2 linked regions of the Homo sapiens genome follow. The protein of the gene in region 2 interacts with the protein of the main gene of each other region in a pairwise test. Each region holds a gene or a part of one and is shown on either strand. Other genes may lie near its edges.

Region 1 (4,408 bases), on a different chromosome or scaffold from region 2:
CATTTATCCATGCATTATCCATCTATCATCATCTGTCTATGACAAGAGTTAGTATTAGGTCAACTAATGGAAAAGGTGGGGCTAGATTTAAAGATTCTTCTACCACAGTAGTTCCCCAAGTTTGATTCCTGAAGAACTTCATCAAGAACTTAAGAAATGTCAATTATCAGACCCTACCCCAGACTTCCTGAATCAGAAACTCTGAGGGTGGGCCCAGCAGCCTGTGCTTTAACAAGCCCCCAAGGTGACGCATGTACATGCTGTAGTTGGAGGACCACTGTTCTGTTTCATCGAATGCTTAAATCAACTAGATCCATAGCATTGCTCCCTCGAATGTCTTCTACCTTTTCACCAATGACTAAAATTCCAAAGAGAAAACCAAAACAGACGAAAATGAGCCCTATCACATAGAAGGGGGGCCAGGGGGAAGTTGCCACTGGAAAGTGCCCCTGGCCTTGTTACTGAAGATCAGGTTCAGAAAAGTATATAAAATGTCAATTCTCAAGGTCAAAGGCTACAGATTCACAGACCATATGGACAGCACACATTATCCTCCTTTACATGCAGATTAGCCTAGCTAATGAAGGTTCTAGGTGACAGAAGAAATGCATAAATCTGAAATTAAAACACAGCAGCATGTCCTGGACAGCAGCAAAGATAAAATGCCTGTGGGTTGGGGGTGAATCTACAGAGGGTGAAGCTCTGCACAGCTGAATGAGGCAGCTGCTCTAAGGCCAGCCGCTGTACGCAATCCCTCAGCTGTGACCTAGCCCCGCCACTGCCCTGAGGACCTACACCAGCCGCCACATCAGTGTCCTGTTGCCATCAGCTTTTACCTGGCACGGATCCTAGCATGACCCCAGAAGGAGAAGCAGCTCCATGACCTCCCGCTGAAGAGTGTTTGGCTGCAGGTGGGGAACTCTCCTGAGGAAGTGCTTGGAATTTAAACCCGAGGTGGGGATCAGGTTTACCTTGACCTTCACCCCTACCAGAGAATGTGCACCACATACCCGTACACTCTGTGGTAGCATCATGTCAATACTGCATCATAAACCCCCTCATGATGGTTTTACAGCCTTCAACCTAATAACTTGCCTCCGCTGAGCAGTACCTCACACAGCGTGAGCAGAAAATGGGTTTGTGCTGAAGGAAGAGGCCAGTGTTAATGGGTGGTAAGTGGAGTATGATGCAGGGTCACCTCCCCTAACTAAACGCTACAGGGTGCTCATAACCGAGGATATCTGGTAAGCTGGACTTGAAAGTCCTGGTGAAGCATGCAATTATCGGTAATGCAGATGTGTGGGAGGACGCACATCTCACTGCCTGTTCCAGATGAGACGATGGCCCACACCGAGCGCCCGGCTCGCACGACATTCAGTGAGCAGACAGTGTCACTGCTGCTCTTCTGAGATAGCCTTTTTCCAATTAAAAATGCGCACATGTCTCTTGGAGCTCATGAAGAAACCCCAATCCCTAAAAACCTGGGGAATGACATCAGCCTCTGGAGCGGTTCCCACTCTGTGACTCTGACACCGAACGGCACGCAGAGGCATGCAGAGCAAGGGGGGCTTTCTCCTCCACCCCCACAGCCGATCGGAAGCCTCCCTGTGAACCTGGCATCCACGCAGCCCTTCACCATACTCAAACCCTGCAAACCCTGCACGGAAAAGCTCCACTCAAGCTTCAGAAAAAGAGCTGATTCTCTAAGAATCAGGGAGCAGACGGCATGAAAATGGTTTTGTTTTCTTTCGACCCACATACAATAAACCCAGCAGCTTTGATCATAAAAGCCCCCATTAAAAACATCTTGATTAGACCATCCCATACGATGGTGCTTATGCTGATTTAATCACTGGTTCACTCTCAGAATCCATCGGGGTGGGCAGAGAAAGAGAACCACACCCAAACCAAGCAACTGACATTTTAATCTCCCAGGCAAGTACTAGTTAGACAACTAGTAATGGCATATATGACATAACATATGGCAACATCAGGCAAAACACTTGGCAACTTACTTTTAATGATATATCATTATTTCCTCTTCATTTCAAGGAAAACGAGTTAAGGATGCCTCTCCCTTCTGCATAACACAGCCTGAGAACTCAGATGCGACCGCCTGAAAGCCACGGCCAGATGCAAGCTGTCAGCCCAGTCTCTGCTTACACCTAAAAGAATCGATCTGAACTACTCTTCAAAGCTTATTTGAAGTAATATTTCGATTAATACTGAAAATGAACGTCCAGTCCACTCTTTACCCATACCGTCTCAAACATCTGTCTTAGGTTTAAATTGCATTTAATGAAGAAAAGAACCACCTGATTAGTCCAGGTTTTTTCATCCTCAAAACGAGCTTCCAGGTAGCTTCACCATCCCTACCCCTGGCTCTGAAACCCCAAGCTCTGAAAGCCCTTGGCTCAGATCATTCTCCATTCGCAATGCATTCTCCATTGCGAGGGCTGCGGACAGGCAGGTTGATGGGCAGACTTCAGACACACAAATGGCTCCGCATGCAGACCCAGCAACCCTGAGAGAGCCAGTGTCACCAACGTGCAGTCATTTTGACTATCCCGGGCAGCATACGATCGCCGACAGCCTCTGAAAACACACCAGCTGCCAACCAGTGCCCCCCATGTCACAGCTACCACGGCTAGAAAGGAACACGAGGGCGGCTTACAAAAATCAGACGCATTTCCCCACATTTCAGCCCATGATGTCAAGCTTAAGCACAGATCACTGACGGCCAGCAGCTCCTCCTACCCGTGTGCTTGGAAACCGCATTTAATCTCTGCACCATTTCTTCCAAGGCCATCTCTTCAGTCCTCAGCCAAAACCTCATCCTCCGACACAACAAAAATGATCCTGGCAGATCCGCTTCCTCCGCACGGGGGGCGCCTGCGGGTGGGGCCGTGCGAGTGCGGAGGGGGCGCGGCGGAGGCGGGGAGGGGGCCACGGCAGCGCTTTCAGCCTCCAGCCGCCGCCTCCCTGCCCAGGATTGGTTCCGCGCCACCGGGAGGGGGGCGCGCGCTGCGCCGCGGGGGGCGGGGGGCGGCTCGGCGGAAGCGGAAGCGGCGCGCGCCCGCCCCGGTGTGTCACCACCGCGGGTCACCTGGGAGTCCTGTGAGTGCACCGCCGGGGTCACCTGGGAGCCCCGCGTGTCACCGCCGCGGTCGTCGGGGAGCCCCGGGGCTCACCAACGAGGTCACCTGGGAGCCCCGCGGGTCACCGCCGCGGTCACCTGGAAGTGTCACCTGTGTCACTAGGTCACCTAGTGTATCACACAGGTCACCTAGAAATTCGTGTCACCGCCAAGGTCACCTAGAAATTCGTGTCACCGCCGAGGTCCCCTGGGAGCCCCGCGGGTGCCGCACAAGTGCCCCCGCCCTTCCCCCCGGTTCCGGGTCTCCACGCCCTCCTGGTTTGCGGGCAGCCGCGAAGCCGCGAGTGGACCGAGCGAGTGCAGCTGCCTCCGCGGGGCCGCGCCTGGCCGCCGCCTCCCTTTACCTCCGGCCGCCCCGTGGCAGGTGTAGAAGCTGCAGAGGCCGCAGCAGCCCAGCGCGCCCCTTCCGTGTGGCCGCATGCCACCCGCGCCGCGCCCAGGTAAGCAGGTCCGTGGGTCGCTGGGTCCATGCGTGGGTCCGTGGCTGGCCGGGGATGGACCAGCCCCTCCCCGCAGGGGCATCGCCTGCCCAAGGACGCAGGACCCAGTGAGGGAAGCGCGCGCTGCAGGCACGGGGCTCTCCACCCTCGCCATGGTTGGCACCAAGCCACACTGTGCACTCGACACACGCAGCGTCCTGGCTGCCACCTGCAGATTCCAGCTCGTGTCTATGCAGGGCCATGGCCGCCATCACAGGGCCATATGCAAGAAACTCTCTGAGCTCTCCTCGCCCAAAACCGCAGCTATCCTTTTGTGGTTTGGTATTATAGGTAACATGCCCTTCCTTAAAGAAACAGTATTTCAGGCCTGTAGTCCCAGCTACTCCGGAGGCCGAGGCAGAAGCTGAGGCAGAAGCAGGAGGATCATTTGAGCCCAGAAGTTTGAGCCTGGGCAATGTAGCAAGACCCCCCCCCCCACCTCACTCCCCAATCAGTTAAAAGAGAGAGAGAGAGAGAGAGAATTCCAGCAGGAAGAAGTACACATTTCCACGAATGGTTTGGGAATTCAAGCATCATATGGCTGAGGTTTGAACTACAGCTCATGCCAATAACATGTGCACATGCGCCAGCATTCCAGCGTCCAACAGAGCATGCGTGCACCATTCCAGCATCCGGCAACAATGCACCAGCATTCCAGCGTCCAACAGAGCATCCGTGTACCATTCCGGCATTTGGCAACAATGCACCAGCATTCCAGAGTCCAACAGGGCATGCGTGCACCATTCCAGCATCCGGCAACAATGCACCAGCA
Region 2 (3,808 bases):
TAGTTTTATTTTCAAAGTCATTGACCTCTTGTATCAGATTTAAGGCAAAGAAGAAGATACATGTCCCAGGACTATAGGCCAGGCTGTTGACTGCACTGGGATTTAGATGGTGTAATCTCCCTTAGTTCTACCAGGGAGACCTCAGCCCAGGTCTTGTTGCCGGGGCACAGTTGAGCACTGGATTCAGGTAGAGGAGGGCTCCCAGGTCAGTCTGAGAGTTAATGAAGAGATTAAAAAGTCTGGCAGAGGACAGGACTCTTACAGGTGACTGGCTTGGAGGGGAACCTACCAGTCCTTCTTCCAACTTGCTGCTGAAATCCCAGTGTTCTTGAAGACAGGGTTATGATCCTCTTCACCAGGTCTGGCGGGGGTGGGGCTCAGAAGGTGGCCAACCCACCCTCTGAGCCCAAATATTGTTCCCAGAATGCTCACCTTGACCTCACCCTGTGGTTCGCCTAGACCCAGGGTTGGCTGTGCAAAATCATGCTTAGGGAAGGGTTGCAGAGAAACCTTTGCACCAGTTTCCTGGGTCTTCATCCCAGCCAGTCAATGTCATCGTCATCATCATCATCTCCAAAAAGGGGCGTTGGGGGCGGGCGTCCCTTCATGCTCTGATAAAACAGGAAAGAGCAGTCAGTCCTCACTTGTGCCTGCACCACTGGACTTTCCACCTGTGAGTGGAAGCAATCCAACTTCTGTTCCCAGCTCTGGGTCAGAAAGGAGGTTGTACTGACAGGGCCAACTCTGAGGCCAGCAAACCTAGGCTTCCAGATAAAGCTGAGACCAGCAGGCAGAGAAGGGAGGCAGTCTTTCAACAGAGACAAAAGATGAACTTTGTTTGGCTAATCTCATCATTTATTTATGAAGCACATGTACTGATTTGACAGATTTTCCTCTCATGCAGTAACTTACACATTTTGTGTGGAGAAAGAAGGGTCAAAGAGGAAACACTGGAGCAGTAGGAAGAAACAGAAGCAAAGCAGCCCTGAGAGAGCGAGAGGAAGTGGGAAGAAGGGAGGTTGGGAAGAAGACAATCACATATGGAAAAATACTGTCGTCGTGGCCTAAGGTGGCCTGACTGGCTCTGGGTGTGATCCCATCATTTGAAAGAGTTGAATTTGGAGGCTTGGCCAACTGGAGAATCCTAAGAGGTGAAGAACACGGGGCCACAGCCTCCCACACCTCTAGCCTGACTGGCACCACCCTCGCTCCTTCCAGCTAAGGTAGTGGGGGTGAAAGGGACTGATGGGCCATGAGAGACCCTCTCTTTTCACAGCTTGAGCTCCTGGCCTTTCTCCTCTGGCTTGGCAAGGGAACAGGACCTACCCGGCTAGCAGGGATTGATGCTACAGACAGGCACGAACTGAATAGTCTCTACTAAGGCATTCTCTGCTCTGGTGAGCAACTGCCAACCAGAATCCATCTTCACAGGGCCAGGCAAAAGGGAAGGCAGCGTGATGTGTATACAAGTCTCTGGGCTAATCCCACGTCACTACCAATTAGCCAGACCTCGTACTTCTCTCTGGACATCAATGACGTGATCTCTAACTCTGACAGTATAGGATTTTCAAGTGTGGCTCACAGCTTCTGTTTTGTCCTGACTAAAGTTCTGGCTCTACATTTACTAGCTATATAAGCTTAGTTAAATTATTTAATCTTCCTGAGCCTCAGCCCTCTGATATATAAAATGGGATAAAAGTACCTACCTCATTGGATTAGTAGATTAAATGACAACATCTGTGAAGTCGTTTTCAGAGTACCCAAGAACTACATGTTAACTGGACAGTATTGGTACTAATACCAATAATATGCTCACTAATTAAAAGCTTCCAACTATATTTAGGGCAGTCACTTAGAATATACTCAATTTGGTTTTTCCCCCTTTTTTCCTTTTTTTAAGGGCAGAATTGCTATTCTGGATTCTCAAATGAAAATTTAACTCTTGAGAAGAAAGACTCATGGAAGGAACTGGTACATTCCCCAAAGGAACACAGGCAAGAGGGAAGGGCTCCGATACATGCAAGCTGGAGCATAGATCCATCACAGCTCTCTGCTCAAGGTTTTGGCAAAAGGCAAAATCCACTCTGGCTGATACATGAGGGGACAAAATTTGCCCCATTCACCCTCATATTTCTGTCCTTTAGATGGACTGAGCCTGAAGCCCACCTGTGTTCTCCATATGCATTTCAGAGCAGTCAAAATGGCCTAGGGACAGCCAGAACGGTTGTAACCTAGCACAGCGGGGAGCAGCAGAGGCGAGAACCGGGGTTCTAATTCAGTCCCTATCAGTGCCCTCCTCTCCTGGCCTTCACTCTTGTTCTGTGAAGCTATGCTATTAATACTGAACCCATTTTGTGCCCAGGGATATTGTGATGACAAAACAAGGCAGCAGGAAAGCAGGCTGAGTAAGTGGAAAATGCTCAGGAACAGGAGGTCTTTACAGGAGCCTGGGGATTAGTCCTAGCTTTGCCATTAACTCACTCTGTGGCTTTGGGTAAATCATCATTTTGAGCCTCAGGTTTTTTATCTATGAATAAGGATGCCAGGCAAGATGATCTTCAAAGTCCTTTCCAATTCTAAAATATAAATAATATCCTAGCAGATTTGGGGAAAACTAAGGCTTCAGCATTCCAATGTGGGGCTAAGCAGCTCAGCTTTCTTCCTCTGAGGGGACTAATTCCTGCATGGACAGAGACTATGATTCTTTCTCAAAAGTAAAGTGGTATGTGACCGTCCCCTACTCTGCTTACAGAGCTGCGCCCTCCCAGCCCAGCCCCAAGCCTGCTCCCACAGGGCCCTGCACACAGAGTCCAGGGAGTGGGCCACCAACAGGCTCCATTTCTCTTCTCAGAGCCAGTAGGGAAGAGCCCCCAGGTGGGTGTGTGAGGACTTGACAGTGCCTGGGATTTCCTTACCACCTCGTCTTCATCCTCCTCCTCAGGCTGTGCTTTGGGCCTCAGAGCTTTCAGAGTTGCCCCTTTAAACAGTTCATCCTCTTCATCCCCAGAGAGACTGAAGGAAAATCAAGTCATAGAAAATGTTATTGTTCCTGCTCCAGGTCACAGTACCCACCACCTACAAGGGTCACCGGCCCTTGGGTAAGAATTCAACAGCGTTGGTGACTGCTCAGGAATTCCTCCCACCTCCGCTGCCACCATCTCTTCCCACACCCTACAGTGGCCTCCTAGTGCGGTTGGCCCCCTCCAGAACCTACAGCCAGAGTCATCTTTTCAATGTGACCTTCTCAGAATCCTTCCCTAGCCACCCTATCTAAAGTGGAACAACTCCTTTAGAATAGCACCCTGTTTCTTTTTTAAAAGGACTTATCATACTTTATGATATGTAAGTATGTATTTGTTTTCTCCACTTGACTGTCACTCCTTAAACTCAAGAACCAAACCTGCCTTGCCTACCACACTATCACAGGGCCCACCACACTACCACAGTGCCCGCCACACTACCGCAGGGCCCGCCACACTACCACAGGGCCCGCCACACTACTGTAGGGCCCGCCACAGAGCCTTGTACATGGTAGGTGTTGTTGAATTAATACATCAACTAATGAATGAAGACATGAGTAAATTAGTCTCTGAGGGATGAGTTGCCAGCCCTGGAAAAAACAGAGACACTCACCACAGATAACTACCCTGTCCCTGAAGCAGTGCTCAGAGGAACATACCTGGAACGCTGGGAATGATGGCTGGGTCTGAGGGCTGCTCCTGCAACTGTGGAACCTGCCTCTGTGCTTGACAGCTCCTTGTGGGGACCGGTGGAGCTAGTGACATCATCTTTCTTGAGCTGTGGAGGC

What was found.
Region 1: the proteins of FKBP15 (region 2) and MCF2L interact in a two-hybrid assay, tested with the Homo sapiens proteins (one large-scale study listed by IntAct).

What each region holds. Positions count from the first base shown.
Region 1 is NC_000013.11:112,967,808-112,972,215, reverse strand, and holds the start of MCF2L (guanine nucleotide exchange factor DBS), read right to left. Parts: upstream 3,003-4,408; 5' UTR 2,837-3,002; coding exon 2,758-2,836; exon of another isoform or gene 2,700-2,757; coding exon of another isoform or gene 2,675-2,699; intron 2,657-2,674; exon of another isoform or gene 2,016-2,656; intron 1-2,015. UniProt on the Homo sapiens protein: Guanine nucleotide exchange factor that catalyzes guanine nucleotide exchange on RHOA and CDC42, and thereby contributes to the regulation of RHOA and CDC42 signaling pathways. Seems to lack activity with RAC1.
Region 2 is NC_000009.12:113,165,545-113,169,352, forward strand, and holds part of FKBP15 (FK506-binding protein 15), read right to left. Parts: coding exon 3,680-3,808; intron 3,013-3,679; coding exon 2,916-3,012; intron 612-2,915; coding exon 534-611; 3' UTR 1-533. UniProt on the Homo sapiens protein: May be involved in the cytoskeletal organization of neuronal growth cones. Seems to be inactive as a PPIase. Involved in the transport of early endosomes at the level of transition between microfilament-based and microtubule-based movement.